Homo sapiens: one gene and its partners. The protein of the gene in region 1 purifies or fractionates together with the protein of each later gene. This does not show direct contact. Each region holds a gene or a part of one and is shown on either strand. Other genes may lie near its edges.

What was found.
Region 2: the proteins of MFF (region 1) and MGAT5 purify together in Homo sapiens (affinity purification with mass spectrometry; 2 studies listed by BioGRID and IntAct, with this or other methods). This does not show direct contact.
Region 3: the proteins of MFF (region 1) and HCN1 purify together in Homo sapiens (co-immunoprecipitation; one large-scale study listed by IntAct). This does not show direct contact.
Region 4: the proteins of MFF (region 1) and ITM2B purify together in Homo sapiens (co-immunoprecipitation; one large-scale study listed by IntAct). This does not show direct contact.
Region 5: the proteins of MFF (region 1) and CCDC126 purify together in Homo sapiens (affinity purification with mass spectrometry; 2 studies listed by BioGRID and IntAct, with this or other methods). This does not show direct contact.

Annotation. Positions count from the first base shown.
Region 1 is NC_000002.12:227,338,745-227,342,269, reverse strand, and holds part of MFF (mitochondrial fission factor), read right to left. Parts: intron 1,979-3,525; coding exon 1,890-1,978; intron 1-1,889. UniProt on the Homo sapiens protein: Plays a role in mitochondrial and peroxisomal fission. Promotes the recruitment and association of the fission mediator dynamin-related protein 1 (DNM1L) to the mitochondrial surface.
Region 2 is NC_000002.12:134,260,572-134,264,071, forward strand, and holds part of MGAT5 (alpha-1,6-mannosylglycoprotein 6-beta-N-acetylglucosaminyltransferase A), read left to right. Parts: intron 1-3,500. UniProt on the Homo sapiens protein: Catalyzes the addition of N-acetylglucosamine (GlcNAc) in beta 1-6 linkage to the alpha-linked mannose of biantennary N-linked oligosaccharides.
Region 3 is NC_000005.10:45,259,359-45,262,883, reverse strand, and holds part of HCN1 (potassium/sodium hyperpolarization-activated cyclic nucleotide-gated channel 1), read left to right. Parts: intron 1-73; coding exon 74-963; 3' UTR 964-3,525. UniProt on the Homo sapiens protein: Hyperpolarization-activated ion channel that are permeable to sodium and potassium ions. Displays lower selectivity for K(+) over Na(+) ions.
Region 4 is NC_000013.11:48,253,681-48,257,205, reverse strand, and holds part of ITM2B (integral membrane protein 2B), read right to left. Parts: intron 3,399-3,525; coding exon 3,270-3,398; intron 1,030-3,269; coding exon 823-1,029; intron 1-822. UniProt on the Homo sapiens protein: Plays a regulatory role in the processing of the amyloid-beta A4 precursor protein (APP) and acts as an inhibitor of the amyloid-beta peptide aggregation and fibrils deposition. Plays a role in the induction of neurite outgrowth.
Region 5 is NC_000007.14:23,603,858-23,607,382, reverse strand, and holds part of CCDC126 (coiled-coil domain-containing protein 126 precursor), read right to left. Parts: intron 3,298-3,525; exon of another isoform or gene 3,104-3,297; intron 1-3,103.

The DNA of each region.
Region 1 (3,525 bases):
TTAACAAAATACATACATAACATGGTAATATACTTTACAACCATAATGAAAAATATGGTTAAGCAATGTTAAGTGTTTCACTGTGAAAATGTATAAAGATTCATTACTTTTACTATCAAAAATGAGATTTTCAGTTTTACTAAAAATTTAGAAAATGTCATTAAAGCAACTTAAAGAAAAAAAAAGAAAATCAAGTATTAGTTAACACTGTAAATCTTTTCTGTTATGAGGAACTTATGTTATTGAGTAAATACAAAAACATCTATATCATCTACTCTAAATTATACTTCACTGGACTGGTTTTCGTACATAATAAAGGGGTTTCCTTTCTCTTCAGCTGAATGCAGCTATAAATAATATATACTTCGGGAGAAAAAATAAGAGTGGTGCTATATTACAATAATCTTGTTTTTATTAATATAAAATGTCAAAGTAGCTAAGAACCTAAATAGTAAGCCACATCTTTATAAAGTGGAAAAGCTTACTAGAAATCTTTGTTGCCTTAGGATAATGTTACAAAAAGAAAATAATTAAAGCTCTTGAGTGTATGTTTAATCACTCTAAAGCAGATCAAGAAGCCACCTTAGCCATAAATGATACAGCCTCTTTACCGTTTGTGTAATACATTTGGAAATAGTCTAGAAAAAATGGATTTCATGGGCCTGCTGACATCACTGCTAACCAGATACCTTTAGGGAAAACACAATCAAAAAATTTTATATTACTAATGGTTGAATCTTGCATAAGCATTCCCTGAAGGAGATATATATTCATTTTAACCTGCTCTCTTCCTACACAGCCTTTCAGAATAATTTTAACTACCTTAGGAGATATTTCAATATTCTATAAGAAATCAGAGCAGTTTTAGTTCTCCTTTCACCTAACACAAGAGAATGGAATTTCAGTAAGGCAAGCAAATAATTTATATAGAAATTAGAACTTCCTTGTTCTTTCAAAGCAAGGATTTGAAAAAAAAAAAACCTCTCTCTACCTTTAATATCAATGACCCTAACCCCAACAAAACCCCTTCTGTACCCCTATACTCTTTAGAGAGGTCCAAACTAGAGATTAATATGCTGTAATATAAATCACTGTATTGTCCTCTAGTTATTTTGTAAATAAAATTAAATGCTTTGCTTCTATTTAGATTTGCTAGCTCTCAGAAGAGATGTATCATCTCCTGATTCTTTCAGTTTCCACAGACGCTTACATGATACTTGCCATCACATGTGGTTCATGAGTTTACGAAAATTGGCCAAAACATTAATGAGGAAGAAATATTAATTTATATTTAAAAAGCCACTACTGACAATGACTTTCTGATTAAAATTCTGACCAGTTTTCGAAGAACATTTTGTTTGTAAAAATCCATTAATTTTAATAAAAAAGTAAAAAAGCACTGACATTAATAATCTTGTGGTAGCTTTAAGATCAGAATTTGATAATACAACCAAATGAAAAAGAAAGGTTTAAACAAATAGTCTTTTAAACAACATACTTGTATGTTCTGAAAATGAAAAGGACCAAAAAATTCAATGAATCGTAAGGGAGAAAGCTAAAAAATACTTTTGGAAAGAAAAAAATTCTATTTGTCTTGCTACACTGTTTAACATAGCTCATTAGAAGCAAAGCTGGAAAGGACCAGTTCACCATCTTATGACAACTTAATTAGCAAATCATACTACACAGGAAAGGATAAGGTGACTGAAAAATTCTCAGGACCAACAAAATGGCCAGATTTTAAGATTACAAAAAGTATTACAAAAATATAAAATTGATGTAAAACAAATTTTAAAAACTACATGAAGTAATTATTTAGAAAAACATGGGTACAGAAAATATCCTGAGAAAACTTACAAACGAGATAAAATGCTAGTGCTTCTACTCACAGAGAATCATTTCTGACCAGCTGTCCATTTTGGCGAACAGCATTTTCACTCATAGACCGCTCTCTTTTTAGTCTGCCAACTGCTCGGATCTGTTAAGGCACAAAGAGAGGGAAGGAAATAGAAATATTCTTAGTAGGCTAGTAGCTGCTTAGCATCAAAAGAACCTCGATACAAGGCTACTCAAAAAACTTACAACGAACTAAGAAAAGGCAACCAAGAATTGCTGCCAGGCAGTGTATTACTGACAGACTTGCTTTAAAAACAAAACAAGACACACACACACACACACCCTACTTACTATAATGCAGATAAACAGGAATGTCTATTTACTTTAAGAACGCTACTCTAGTTTCTTTTTAAGTATCAATTTTACTTGGTACAATTATTATTTGTTTAACCTTATGGTATATACTTATTTATAAGAACAATTTATAAAAGTGTTTACAGGCACATATAGGAAATGGAGAGCATCTGTATTATAAATAAACCTTCCTGGCTTCTACGGTTGTAACAAATTAAGATTTGGTTGAATATTTGAAAACTAGACTAAAAATGTATCTAGCTTAATGGTTTTGGCATTCCAGAATGGCTGCAATCTCTAATCCCACATGCTCTTCTTATGAAATGTATCTTTGACCTTCTTCATTAAGAGACAGGATCTGTTTCTTTCCCCTGAAATTCAGAGGGCTGGTGACTCCTATAGAAATGATGCAAAGTGACTTCTGAGGCTAGGTCATAACAGTACAGCTTCTGCCTTTCTTTCCCCAGGTTGCTCATATTTGGAAGAATGGCACCATGACACAAGGAAGGCCAAGTAGCCACACAGTGAGGCCATGTGTAAGTGCACCTGCCAACAACCCTAATGGAGGTCCCAGACAACAGCTAGTACCAAGTGACATGTGAGTGAGCAAACCTTCAGATAACTGCAGATCCAGCTGTTGAGTTATCCTTTGCCTTTGAGACTTCCTAGCTTAGGCCCCAGACATTGAAGAACAGAAACAAGCTTTTCCCTTCACGGCAACTGCAAATACCTAACCCACAGAATGCTTGAGCAAAACATAGGCTTGTTTGTTTTAAGCCACTAAGTTTAAGATGATTTGTTACACAGAAATGGATAACTAGAACAGTGATAATCATTAACTTTTCTGCTTATTTGAAAATACCTTTTTTTTTTTTTTTGAGATAGGATCTTGCTCTGTCATCCAGGCTGGAGTGCAGTGGCATGCTCATGGCTCGTTGCAGCCTCAGCCTCCTGGGCTCAAGTGATCCTTCCATTTTAGCCTCTGAAGTAGCTGGGACTATAGGCACACACCACCGCACCTGGCTAATTTTTGTATTTTGTAGAGATGGGGGTTTTGCCATGTTCCCCAGGCTGGTCTCGAACTCCTGAGCTCAAGTGTTCTGCCCACCTTGGCCTCCCAAAGTGTTGGGATTACAGGTGTGAGCCACTGAGCCCAACAAAAATACTAAAAAAAACAAAACAAACAAAAAACCCCCCACTAAAATAGCCATGGCAACATTATGGTTTTTTTTTTTGTTTTTTTTTGAGACAGAGTCTTGTTCTGTCGCCCAGGCTGCAATGCAGTGGCACAATCTCGGCTTGACTCACTGCAAACTCTGCCTCCCGGGTTCAAGC
Region 2 (3,500 bases), about 93 Mb from region 1:
ATTTCATTAAAGATGCAAGCATGTAAAGGGTTTTTTAGTTTGTTTTGTTTTTCCACTTTTTTTTTGTGTCTCTCTTCCTACAAATAGGGAAATATGGTCAAGGAATAGGAATGGTTTCTTTTTTCTTTTTCTTTTTTTTTTTTTTTTGAGGGCTGGGACTGTTGTGGGATAATGTGGAAAACCACTGTTGCCAAAGTAGAAATCCCCTGCCCTTGAGGGAAATACACTGTTCTTGAAGTGAAAATGGTAGGGAAAAAAATAGCTGGGCTGTTCAGTGTGTCTGAGAAGGCTTTTAGTTACTGTATGGTGACGTGGCTGGTGTGATTAAAGAAAGGGCTTTCTGCTTTAAAAAGCTTGGAACCTAAAAATGGGCCTCTCTGTGGCTTGGGACTTTTCCAGCCATCCTGTGGTAGAGTCCAGCCTGCCCAGTATCCTCATCAAAGCCAGGCCAAGTTCACAAGCACGCCCAGGCCAGTCAAAAGGTCTGAGGAAGACCTCAGAAATGTTTTAGACAGGAGGAGTAAACTCAGAATAAGGGGCTCATTCTTCTACCCCTCAGTCATTAAGACCCTTTCTTTCATGCAGCACCACTACTTCAAGTCTGGATTGAGGAGGGATTGCACGCACATGTGTGAGGTTGGAGTCTCAATCTCAATGTGATTGTCATTGCCATGTTCAAACGATGAGGCTTAGAATGTCCCTTGTCTTACCTGATGGTCATAGCTCTCTATGACCCTCTGCTTCTTCCCAGCTGTGTCCTGGTGCTCTTTTGCTGTCAGAAGTGCTTGAGCAGACCTCTTGCTGCTGTGGACACCCTAAAAAGCTCCGCACCCCCTCAAGTCTACTAAGGCATGGTGGCTCTCTTCTAGGACAAGACTGTTGGGTGGTGGCTGAGCATTCGCCTGTCTTTGAGCGTCTGCATTTGCTCTCCCCCACCCCTTCCTCTCTTCCTTCTTTGTTTGTAAATAAAGTTGGTTAGAACACAGCCATGCGCATTCCATTCTGTTTCAGAGAAGTTAGCCTTCCCTCCTTCACAGGAGGGCCCAAACCCACTGTTACTCTCATTCTTTATAACACTCAAGCTACTTAGCATCAAGTATTTGTTGTATGAGCTGATCATGTGTCTCTCCCACTTACAATGTAAGTTCTGAAAGAGGAGGGACTTTGGTCTGTTTTGTTCCCCACTGTGCCCCAGAGCTTAGTACCTTTTGCCTGGCACATAGTAAGAGCCATGAATGAATAGCAGCAGCCCCTGGTGAAACTCTGTGATGCTCTGTGTGGTACAGTTACAGCTGGGACTCATTTGAAAATCACAGTAATGTTTTTAGTGAAGCAGGAAATGAGAAGAAATTCCCTATGGGCTCTGCATCTAAGAGGCTCCAAGTAGCTCTTATGCATGATCCTAACATGGGAACCATTGTTTATTCTGGAAGGTAGTTAGTGTTTCTGTTGGGCGGATGGAACACATTGTGTTCCTTACTGATGTGTGACCTTGAACAAGTCACCGATCATCTTAAAGCTTACTTCCTCTTTTGTAAAACAGACAATATAATATCATTTAACCTCATAGGCTTGTTGTAAGGATTACAAATGACAAAGTTTATTAAGGCACTTAGATTAATTTAGATTATTCTTGTTCTTTTTTTTTGGTGTTGTTTTTGTTTTATTTTGTTTTGTTTTGTTTTGGAGATAGAGTCTTGCTCTGTCACCAAGGCTGAAGTACAGTAGTGTGATCAGGCTCTAGCAACCTCCCCCTCCCAGACTCAAGCCTTATGCCCACCTCAGCCTCCAGAGTAGCTGGGACTATAGGCATGTGCCACCACACTAGGCTAATTTAAAACAAAAGTTTTTTTCTGAAGATGGAGTCTCACTGTATTGCCCAGGCTGGTCTCAAACTCCTGGCCTCAAGTGATCCTCCCATCTCAGCCTCCAGAGTAGCTGGGACTATAGGCATGTGCCACCACACTAGGCTAATTTAAAACAAAAGTTTTTTTTCTAAAGATGGAATCTCACTGTATTGCCCAGGCTGGTCTCAAACTCCTGGCCTCAAGCGATCCTCCCACCTCAGCCTTCCAAAGTGCTGGGATTACAGGTGTGAGCCACTGTGCCCAACCAGCGCTTAATTAAAATGCATTCATTCCTATTAGTAATCACTAACTCTGGCTTGAATGTACCTGCATCTGTTACCACCCAGGCATAACTGTTCATGTAGATCTGACGTTGTTCATTTGTTTGAACACAGGGCTTCAGCAACCTGTTTATGTAGCTATTCTTAGCATTTACAGGGGTAGAGCCTGACCAGACATGAGAGGAAATATGCTCTGTTTCAGAAGAGGTCAGGCTTGCCACCACCCTACTAAACTAGGAGATGTGGTTGTCATTGCCCTGTTCAAAAGATACAGTTTTCTTCTGTGGGCTGTAAGATAAGCTGGGTATGGCCAAGTTCACCTTTGGATCTAACCAGGGCATTGGTGGTGGTGGTGTTTCTGGCATGGTACAGCAAGCAGGAAGCAGTAGTGTGCGAGGCCACCCTTTCCAAGAAGGTGCGGGCCCTGGCATCAGGTGGGGGACAATGGATAACAATAGGCTTGACCTCTCAGCACTTCTCTGATTCCTTATCTTTTCTATAAAAAAGGCTAAAATTCTTGGTTCCTATTCCCTGCAGCTGGCTACATGTTAGGAAAATTCAAAGAATAGCTTAAGAACTCTATTCAGGTTCCATAAAGCACTTAATATCATCAACAGGCCTAGAAAGGATCTTTTACCAGATTTCGATGCATGGAAACTTCCTCAATAGTAATGACACCCTCTGCAACACCTTAGGAAAAACATTCGCTTCTGGGCACAAGTTCTGGTGAAAGCTTAAATCTGTAGTTCTAACCCAGAAGAGAAGGCTAGTCAGTGTTGCTGAGCATCTGAGCTGCTCTTTGACTTTGGTGATAATTGTTTTATGCCCTTTTCTGTCCAGAATCTGCTGACTGGGACAACTGCAGGGTGGAAGCCACCTTTTTGTCAGTTCAGGAGCAGGCAAATTATCTAACATGTGGCTTTAAAATTCAAATGAGATAAGGCAGTAAGGGTCACTAAGATGTTTCTGGTGGGTATTGCCTTACATGACTTTAGGGTACTGGTGGCACTATCTTTGATTCTTAAGAGTACAATTCATTGTACTATGTATATATATTTAAAATAACACTTAATGCCTTTGTGACTTTGAAAATAATGTGAATTTTTATGTAAAATTAAAGCATATGAGGAAGTATGGAGAAGAATAAAGAATAAATACACTCTTTACCTCTAAATGCAGATCTTACCAGATAAAATTGATTTCCCTTTAGTTCTTTAAAAAAAAAAAGTGATACGTACATGTGTGTATATGTGTATATATGTACATGAATATATGCTTTTTTAAAAATTAAGATACTGCATTTCCTTATGCCATTAGGTTTTTTTTTTTTTTTTTTTTTTGAGATGGAGTTTCACTCTTGTTGCCCAGGCTG
Region 3 (3,525 bases), on another chromosome or scaffold:
GAGCCACTCTCACTTGGCGTTGTCATCAGTCATTGGTAGGCTTTCTAAGTGCCTATCTTTCTTTTGCTGACAGGAAAGAAAAATTCAATTCTTCTGCAAAAGTTCCAGAAGGATCTGAACACTGGTGTTTTCAACAATCAGGAGAACGAAATCCTCAAGCAGATTGTGAAACATGACAGGGAGATGGTGCAGGCAATCGCTCCCATCAATTATCCTCAAATGACAACCCTGAATTCCACATCGTCTACTACGACCCCGACCTCCCGCATGAGGACACAATCTCCACCGGTGTACACAGCGACCAGCCTGTCTCACAGCAACCTGCACTCCCCCAGTCCCAGCACACAGACCCCCCAGCCATCAGCCATCCTGTCACCCTGCTCCTACACCACCGCGGTCTGCAGCCCTCCTGTACAGAGCCCTCTGGCCGCTCGAACTTTCCACTATGCCTCCCCCACCGCCTCCCAGCTGTCACTCATGCAACAGCAGCCGCAGCAGCAGGTACAGCAGTCCCAGCCGCCGCAGACTCAGCCACAGCAGCCGTCCCCGCAGCCACAGACACCTGGCAGCTCCACGCCGAAAAATGAAGTGCACAAGAGCACGCAGGCGCTTCACAACACCAACCTGACCCGGGAAGTCAGGCCACTCTCCGCCTCGCAGCCCTCGCTGCCCCATGAGGTGTCCACTCTGATTTCCAGACCTCATCCCACTGTGGGCGAGTCCCTGGCCTCCATCCCTCAACCCGTGACGGCGGTCCCCGGAACGGGCCTTCAGGCAGGGGGCAGGAGCACTGTCCCGCAGCGCGTCACCCTCTTCCGACAGATGTCGTCGGGAGCCATCCCCCCGAACCGAGGAGTCCCTCCAGCACCCCCTCCACCAGCAGCTGCTCTTCCAAGAGAATCTTCCTCAGTCTTAAACACAGACCCAGACGCAGAAAAGCCACGATTTGCTTCAAATTTATGATCCCTGCTGATTGTCAAAGCAGAAAGAAATACTCTCATAAACTGAGACTATACTCAGATCTTATTTTATTCTATCTCCTGATAGATCCCTCTAGCCTACTATGAAGAGATATTTTAGACAGCTGTGGCCTACACGTGAAATGTAAAAATATATATACATATACTATAAAATATATATCTAAATTCCCAAGAGAGGGTCAAAAGACCTGTTTAGCATTCAGTGTTATATGTCTTCCTTTCTTTAAATCATTAAAGGATTTAAAATGTCGTTGTAAGATTATTTATTTCTAACCTACTTTTACTTAAGTCCTTTGATATGTATATTTCTCTATTTTATGAAGAGTTCTTGGATTCAATGGAAACAAAACTGATTTTAAAAAGGCAACTCAAATGAACTAGTAAATAGCACCAATCAAAACTTTCTTTCATTAGCTGTGTCTCTGCATCTAAATTGTTAATCATTAATGGTGGAGAATTAAATAACAAATCCCATTTTATAGATCTAAATTGTATTTCGGTGCTTTCAATTTCAAATTAGGTTAAAGAATGCACTACTTGCTTGGCCACCGTAGGAGACTAGCATTGCCACTGTTTGTTAAGAATATCACTAACCTCAAACATGTTCATTGATCTTTCAGAAAGCTGAGGGAAAATTAATATTTGTCTTCATGTGTTATCGGACTTTTACCAAGACTCGATCAATGTTAGTTGTAAATAACTTTTTCAACCCAAATAAAAATAGCTATTCTGTGTTGTATGAAGGTAAAAGTCATTGTTTAAGAATTTAGTTTTATTGCTTCACTTCAAAACTTAGAGTTTTAAATTTTACAAAACCTGATTGTGAGAATTATTCAATTGTAATGCAATGGCTTGAAACCTACAATATTATTTTAACCTGCAATGTTTTATGCAAAATTGTATGCTCGAATCTACAAATTGCTTGTATTACACCAAAAATCGTTACTTTTCTTTCTTCTTGCCATAATCAAGCATCTGAAAATAGTCCCTGCATGCTTCTGGGGAAAAAAAAATAGGTTCAAATCAGTCATTGTAGAGAAAGGCTTACAGTATTTCTCGTTTCTAGAAAAGCATAACAATTCATTAATTGCCTATCTTATAATTCCTATAAGGCTGACTTGGATCTCTGACTTAAGTCTAGAAGTGAGGTTTTCACTTTTATTTAATATTATTGCTATTATTATTTAAATAATTATTTGTAAACCACAGCTTGATTTGGAGTTAAGTGTTGTCTGTGTCTTCACTGTAGCTGGTAATTTACTATGGTATTAATTTAAAGAAATAAATTCAATACAGCATCACGTCTGTTTGGGAACACACATTTTGCTCTATGTATATTGTAACTAAATGGTTAGTAAACTTTAAGGCATGTGGTGACTAACGTAGCCCTTAGATAGGAGGTTTGTCATTTTTAATGTGTTGAAAATAGTACAGACATGGTGACAGAAAGCAGGGGTAAAGTTGAACGTCTATGAGCATTGTCTGTCTGTTTTCTTAACTCTTTACATGATCTGTGAGCACCTGCTTCTTCTCAAAGAACTCCCTTAGTAATCATTTGTGCCTAATGCATCCCACACATGTGGAGTATGACTGGAACACAATTGAAAGATTCCTAACAACTGGCTGCGGTAAATAACCCAAGTTAAGAGCATGACTTAAAGTGGAGGTCTTCAGTATCTCTGGCACTGGCAATACATTTAAGAACATACAGAGATCACACATTATGTGGGACAGGGCCTGCAGATAGACTTGAGGACAGAAAACAAAAACAAAAGCAGAAACTCTAAAGTGGATCCTTGCTGCCTGTTATGCCTTTTGTGGATATAATACCTATAATACCAAAATGAGTTGTTATGTTTAATTTCAAACAAATCCCAACTGGTGTGGAAGTAATTAACTGCTAGTCGATGTAATGTAATCATCAATATGCTGGTGACATATGATGGCATGTCAGGAATACTGTTGTAAGAAAGGGATTGTTCAGTCTACCTAGAACCTATGGGAAAGCTGCAAGACCATTTACATATCAGTACAAAACTCCTTTATTTTATTAAAATATGAGAATTAACTTCAATTTATTAAGATTACGTATTGGTCCTTTAAATTATTAAAGGTTTACATTTGATAGGATTAATGGATTTGGTAGTGAAATATTTTTATATATATAAATTTTTGGTTTTTTATTTTGAGCACTATTGGGAAACATAAGCAAAATTGAAATGCATGGTCTTTCAGTGCAACCATACAATTTTTATTCACTTTGTAATAGAATGGACAAAAAAACTAAGGTTTATATATTAAACTAATAAAAAGGTACAGGGTAAATTATATACATATATGTATGAATGTATATATACTTAGATTAAGAAAAAAAAATGACTCACATTCCTGTAATATAAAGGTCCATTGCTAGTTGAAAAGTGACCTCTTTTCTCTGTACATAGTGAAGCCCGTATGTATGGAGTTTTAATCTGTACAGAAAGAAATGTATTATTCATTGGTCTTTCTGCTGCTGGAAAGATAATAGAATAGCTGATTCTTACAA
Region 4 (3,525 bases), on another chromosome or scaffold:
TAATAAAATATTTTGAGAAACCACCTTCACATAACTTTTATTATAGTATTTTGTTATAACTGTTTTATTATTATTGTCGTTAATCTATTACTGTGGCTAATTTGTAAATTAAATTTTAACATATGTATATATGTACACTAACAGGAAAAAACATAGTATATACAGGGTTTGGTACTATATGCAGTTTCAGACATCCACTGGGGGTCTTGGCATGTATCCCCCACGGATAAGGGGGGACTACTGTCCTATAAGATCATGTTAATTTTCTTAGATGTGATAATTATGTGGTTACGTAGGAGGACAACTCATTCTTGAGAGATAATAGCATAAGTACTTATGTCAAATGACAGAAAAAGAGATGAAGCAAATATGGCAATATTTGGAACAAAGTGGAGGATTTTGGGTATTCAACTTTTCTGCATTACATAAAAATGCTCAAAAGCTGGGGAAAAATATAGAATGAGAACTTAAAAACAGATTAACAAAATTATTGATTTTGAAAATGCTACCAAGAAACAGGAACATAAATTACCTCTTATCTAAGAAAATGTGGGAACATATAAAAAATATTAGTTTGCCAGCAAAGGAGGAACAGTCATGAGGTGGGCTTTAAGAGTAGGTAAGGCAAGGGGAAGGAGAGATAAGATATGAGAAGGCTGCATCAGCAGGGTCTGCTTCAGACATAGCAGAGCCCACCAAATGCTGACAGTTTATTAAACTAAACTCTAAATATAATAAATTAGCAAATATTGAAATTAAAACTACAAAAAGCATAAACTACAGAACCTGCATTCTTTCTACAATTCTGGACACTTGGCTCACCTTGTTAAAGTCATGAACAATGTTGGCAGGATCACTATCTGCAAACTCTGGGACAGGCACACTGATAAATTCAACTTCTTCTTCTTCAAAGATTTTAATATTTTCTTCAATTGTCTGGTAGAGAGCAGCTGGGGCATCTGCAGAGGGCTCATTTAAGATGACATCATCTTTGATGTACTTTATTCCACAGTAGTACACGTCATCTGGCTATAGAGAGTTTAAAGACTCATTTCAGCAATTCAGCATGAGACAGGTTTTTAAATAAGCATTACTTAAGCTGCCACCTCTATCTAAATAGCATTTTGCTTGCAAACTCTTGCTTTTAGATGACAAGTCAGACAGTTTAATTACAGAGTTAACATATTCTTTAAGATCAGGTTTTGAAGCACTGTAAAAGAACAGCTTCAGAAGAAAGGCAGCTGGTTTTCCCTTTACTTTTCCTGGTAGGTGAAAATAGAACATAAAAATAATTAGCTATCCAGTAACAAATAAATATAAAGAAACAACAGACCTACTCTACCTGTAAGCAGTTTTTATAGAAGAATACATTCCAAAACTAGTCAAGTTTTTCTGAAAGAATATATTAAAAAGTTTTGATATGGTCTACTAATTAAATGACTTTTTTCTTATTAGCCAAAAAAGGGATAATTTTTCTGAAATTTCTATATGCATATACGTAGTTCTACTTTTCCCTTTATATCACAATTCAGTGGAAAATATTAGATTACAGCAAATCTTTATGCTACTGTCTCACTTTTACAAAAAGAAAAAACAGTACATAAGGTCGGGTGCAGTAACTCATGCCTGTAATCCTAATACTTTGTGGGGAGGAGGCCTGAGACAGATGGACTGCTTGAGCCCAGGAGTTCAAGACCAGCCTGGGCAACATGGTGAGACCCTGTCTCCACAAAAAATAAAAAAATTAGCTGGGTATGGTGCCACGCACCTGTAGTCCTAGCTACTCCTGGGGAGGTTGAGGCGGGAGGATTGCCTGAGCCCAAGAGGTTGAGGCTACAGTGAGCTGTGATTGCACCACCGCACTCCAGCCTGGATGACAGAGTGAGACCCCATCTCAAAAAAAGCCAAACACACAGTACATGTACACGTGCGCGCACGCACACGCGCGCGCACACACACACACACACACACACACTACACACACTACACACACAATAAAGACTAAGGGTATACAAAATGTGAATGCACAGGGCCAGGCATGGTGTGTCACGCCTGTAATCCTAGCACTTTGGGAGGCCAAGGTGGGTGGATCGCCTGAGGTCAGGAGTTTGAGACCAGCCTGGCCAACATGATGAAACCCTGTCTCTACTAAAAGTACAAAAATTAGCCAGGAGTGGTGGCAGGTGCCTGTAATCTCAGCTACTTGGGAGGCTGAGGCAGGAGAATTGCCTGAACCCGGGAGACAGAGGGTGCAGTGAGCCGAGATCGCGCCATTGGACTCCAGTCTGGGCAACAAGAGAGAAACTCTGTCTCAAGAAAAAAAAAAAAGTTAATGCACCAAATGTTATCTCTGGAAAATGGAATTGCGATGATTTTTTCTATACTATATGTATTTCTTGTAAATAAAACTGTATTTAAAAAGATGACTAGTATTTTGGTAATGTCTATCAACATGTGATTGATTATCTTGAACAACACAGAAAATGAGCATGAAATTGAGAATGTTTCAAAATTAGTTAAATTATTTTAATAAGTCTAGTTGTCAACTGTTTCTCCAAATTTTGAAACAGCTGAAGTAGTCATAAAACCTTGAAAGTAATTTCCCCTTCAAAACTCCTAAAAAAAAAAATTGTGTATTATTGCCAAGAGAAATATATTACAAAATAGATTGTAAATTATAATCAATCACAAGGAAGACCTTTGTCTTAACCCACTGGGATTACTATTAAACACTCAAAGTTATAAACAACTTTCATCCTATGTTATTTCAATATCACTGCTGAAGTCACCCAGTTCTTTAGTGAAACCATGACTGGAAAAGAAGCAGAGACATGGTCTTACTGTATTCTGGGCCCAAGGGTACAGCAGGACCATAGGGGAGTCCAAGCTGACTATCAAGTTATGGCCTATCAACATGAAAACATTTGTGGCTGATGTATTTATTCAACTGGCAATTGATAATACTATTCCTCTCAACCCTTAATTATAGTAGGAAAATAAAGGTTAGTAAAATCACCCAATGACCTAAATAAATCCCTTAGTCACCAACATTTCAAGTTACTCTGCTTTTAGTGACTGTGTGTGATGGGCTCAGCAAACATATCATGGAGAGATGTTTAAACACAGCTTTAAAATAGAACTACCACTCTGGCTGAAGGTCACAGATAAAAAGTACAAGCTTAGCGCAAGTTGTAAACAATTTTGTAATGCACATCGGGAGAGGCAAAAAAAAAAAAAAATCAGAGACACAAAATAATTTTTCCACTTACTTGAAGTGCAAAATATTTGTACAAGTATGCTCCTCCTAGAATAACACCTGCAAGCATAAATGCTAGTCCAAAGCACATGCACCAACACCAGGCTCTTCTTTGGCCAACTGGTACCACATCATCTGGGTCCTAAAATATGAAAAAGACAGTTAAATATCTTATCTCCAGACAGAATAACAGAAGGCTCAGGACTAGAAAAACCTTAATGATTATCATTTTAATAAATGAAGACACAAAGACCAAAGGAGTTGTGTCT
Region 5 (3,525 bases), on another chromosome or scaffold:
ATGTTTCAAGTACTGATCCAGCCCCCAGAAGGCCACTTAGATAAGGACAGAGTCACTAAGCAGAAACCTGATAGGCCAACATTGAGGCCAAGGGCTTATGGCTACCATCTGGCATAGTTCTTATTGGAGTACTTCTTCCATCAAAACAGTCTACAATCTAAAAACTTTTAAATCTTAATTTCTAGGCCACTATATTAATTTTCTATTAATCACTTAAAAAAAACACAAAACTTGAAATTCACCAAATTAACAACTAGAGAGTTGTTTTTTGTTTTTTGCTTTTGAGACAGGGTCTCGCTCTGTTGCCCCGGCTTGCAGTACAGTAGCACGATCTCAGCTCACTGCAGCCTCGGCCTTCCGGGCTCAAGCAATCCTCCCACCTTAGCTTTCTGAATAGCCTGGAACTACAAGTGCACACCACCAGGCCTAGCTAATTTTTGTACTTTTTTTTTTTTAGAGGGGTCTCATTACGTTGCCCAGTCTGGTCTCACGTGATCCTCCTGCCTCATCACGTGATCACCTGGCCTCACGTGATCCTCCTGCCTCAGCCTTTCCAAAGGGATGGCAGGTGTGAGCCACTGTGCCTGGTCTGGAGTTTTAAAGGCAAAAAATAAAATAATCATCATCATTGTTATTTTGGCCTAAGATAAACCTTGAATATTTTTAAGATTCCCAGGAGAAAGTGCTCAACCAACTGCAGAAGTCACAAAAGTAATTAGTCTATATGGCACAAAAGTAGAATAACTAAGGAGAGGGGACACACTTAAAATGAAGTATCAGTAAAGTACTAGACCTGAAGAAGGGCAACAGAGTGTGATCCAACTATCACCACCTCCAAGTGGATTCCTATAGCTGCTTGTCAAGTGGTTTGCCAGACTCCTCTCCAACCCTACTTCAATCCATTCTTCTCAGAGCAGTCAAATATTCTTCCAAAAACAAAACTCATAATTCGAAGACATTTTGCCAATAAAAAAAAATGCTCAACCTCATTAATCATAGGGAAATGTATATTAAAACCACTATGAGGCCAGGCACAGTGGCTCACACCTGTAATCCCAGCACTTTGGGAGGCCAAGGCAGGCAGATCACGAGGTCAGGAGATCGAGACCATCCTGGCTAACATGATGAAACCCCGTCTCTACTAAAAATACAAAAAATTAGCTGGGTGTGGTGGCGGGCACCTGTAGTCCCAGCTACTTGGGAGGCTGAGGCAGGAGAATGGCGTGAACCCAGGAGGCGGAGCTTGCAGTAAGCAGAGATCACGCGACTGCACTCCAGCCTGGGCGACAGAGCAAGACTCGGTCTCAAAAACATAAATAAATAAATAAATAAAACCACTATGAAATACCACTTCATACCCATTAGGATAGTTATCACACACACACACACACAAAAAAAAACAGAAAACAAGTGTTGGCAAGGATGTGAACAAATCGAAACTCTTCTGCTCTGCTGGTGGGCACATAAAATGGTGTGGCTGCTGGGGAAGACAGTATGGCATTTCCTCAAAAACTTAAACATAGGATTATCATACAATCTGTAATTGAACTTCTGGATATATACACAAAAGAAATGAAAGCAGAAACCCAAAGGGATATGTGTATGCCAGTGTTCATTGCAGCATTATTCATAACAGCCAAAAGGTGGAAACAACCCAAGTGTCCATCAACAGATAAACAGATAAATAAAATGTGGTATCTACATACAATGGAATATTATTCAGCCCTAAGGAAGTAAGATGTTCTGATACATGCTACCACATGGAAGAAGAGAATGGAAAGTTATGATTTAATGGGTACAGAGTTTCAGATGGAGATGATGAAGAAGCTCTGGAGATGGATGGTAGTGATGGTTGCATGATGATGTGAACGTACTTAATGTCACTGAACTGTACACTTAAATGTTAAAATGATAAATTTTAGATTATGTATTTTTTTACCACACACACACACACACACACACACACACACACACACACACACAAGCATATCACATTCTCCTGCTTAAAAACCTTTCAACAGTTTCACACTGCACTTAGAATCTAACATGCAAACTCAGTACCAACCTTTACAACATGCAATCCACAAGCCCTACATAATCTGACTTCTACCCATTTCTCTTTGTCCTAATCTCATACCACTTCCCTCTTGCTCACCATGCTAAACCCATGCTAGGGAAAACACATTAAATTCTTTCTGACCTCAGGGTCTATACAATTGCTATTCCCTAGCTTGGAGTACTTTCCCTACAACCTGTTCCTTTTCATCCTTTAGTACTTAGTTCAAATGTCATCGCTTCAAAATGTTTTCAAAAAGTTGCACTCCAATTCCTATCCCACTCTAGCCACAAGGTACTCTCTATCATTTTCTTTTTTTTTTTTTTTTTGAGACGAAGTCTTGCTCTGTCGCCCAGGCTGGAGTGCAGTGGCTCAATCTCGGCTCACTGCAAGCTCCACCTCCTGGGTTCACACCATTCTCCTGCCTCAGCGTCCCAAGTAGCTGGGACTACAGGCGCCCGCCACCACACCCGGCTAATTTTTTGTATTTTTTTAGTAGAGACGGGGTTTCACCATGTTAGCCAGGATGGTCTCGATCTCCTGACCTTGTGATCCACCCGCCTCAGCCTCCCAAAGTGCTGGGATTACAGGTGTGAGCCACCGCACCTGGCCCTATCATTTTCTATATGAAATTATAGTATATCTTTAAAACCTTGTAAAAGTTATTTTATCTCCCTAAGGCCTGATATCCTCACTTATATAATGGGGACAACAATACCTATTTAATACTGGTAAAGAATAACTGACATACTACTCAATAAATATTAATCTTTATCATTAGTGTCAGGCATTTATGCAACAATGCTACTAATTCTTGGTAATCTGAGTAACATTAGGTAATACAGGAAATGTCTTAACAGACTCAAATAAAACTCCTGATTAGCTCTCATGGGCCTCCACAACCCAGTCTCCAAAGACCAAGTTTATTTCTCATTAGTCACAAAAATATCTCCTCCAATCCAGCCAGTCTTCTCTCTGCTTCATACAATAGTAATAATTATATCTTACATTTATATGATAATTTTATTTACCCAGCATGTGTCTTACCTGTTTGCTGACATCCTCTCATTCAGTTAATAACAGTCAGCTCTCAGAGAGGCTACAGGCTTGAAAAGGTTTCTACTCAGAATTTGTGGACAACATGAAAATGTCATTGGTATTAAGTCACTGGAGCATTACCTAGTCCTAAAAGATGACATAATAGCATGTTGCTGATGAGAACAGTTCATCTTCCAAGTAGTCTGAAAGGAGACGAGGTAAAATACCTGTTTAAATCTTACCTCGGATAGAATGATTTCAAAACCTCCTTACCTTATTCTACCCCACACTGATCTTCTTCTAACTCCCACAGCATGTTACTTCATACCAATTAATTTTATATATCACACATCCAAGCATGTGTGTAAGCCATGTCTCCCTGATTAAGTCCCAGGTCCCTTATGGGCAAGAACAACAAGCCTTACACTGCT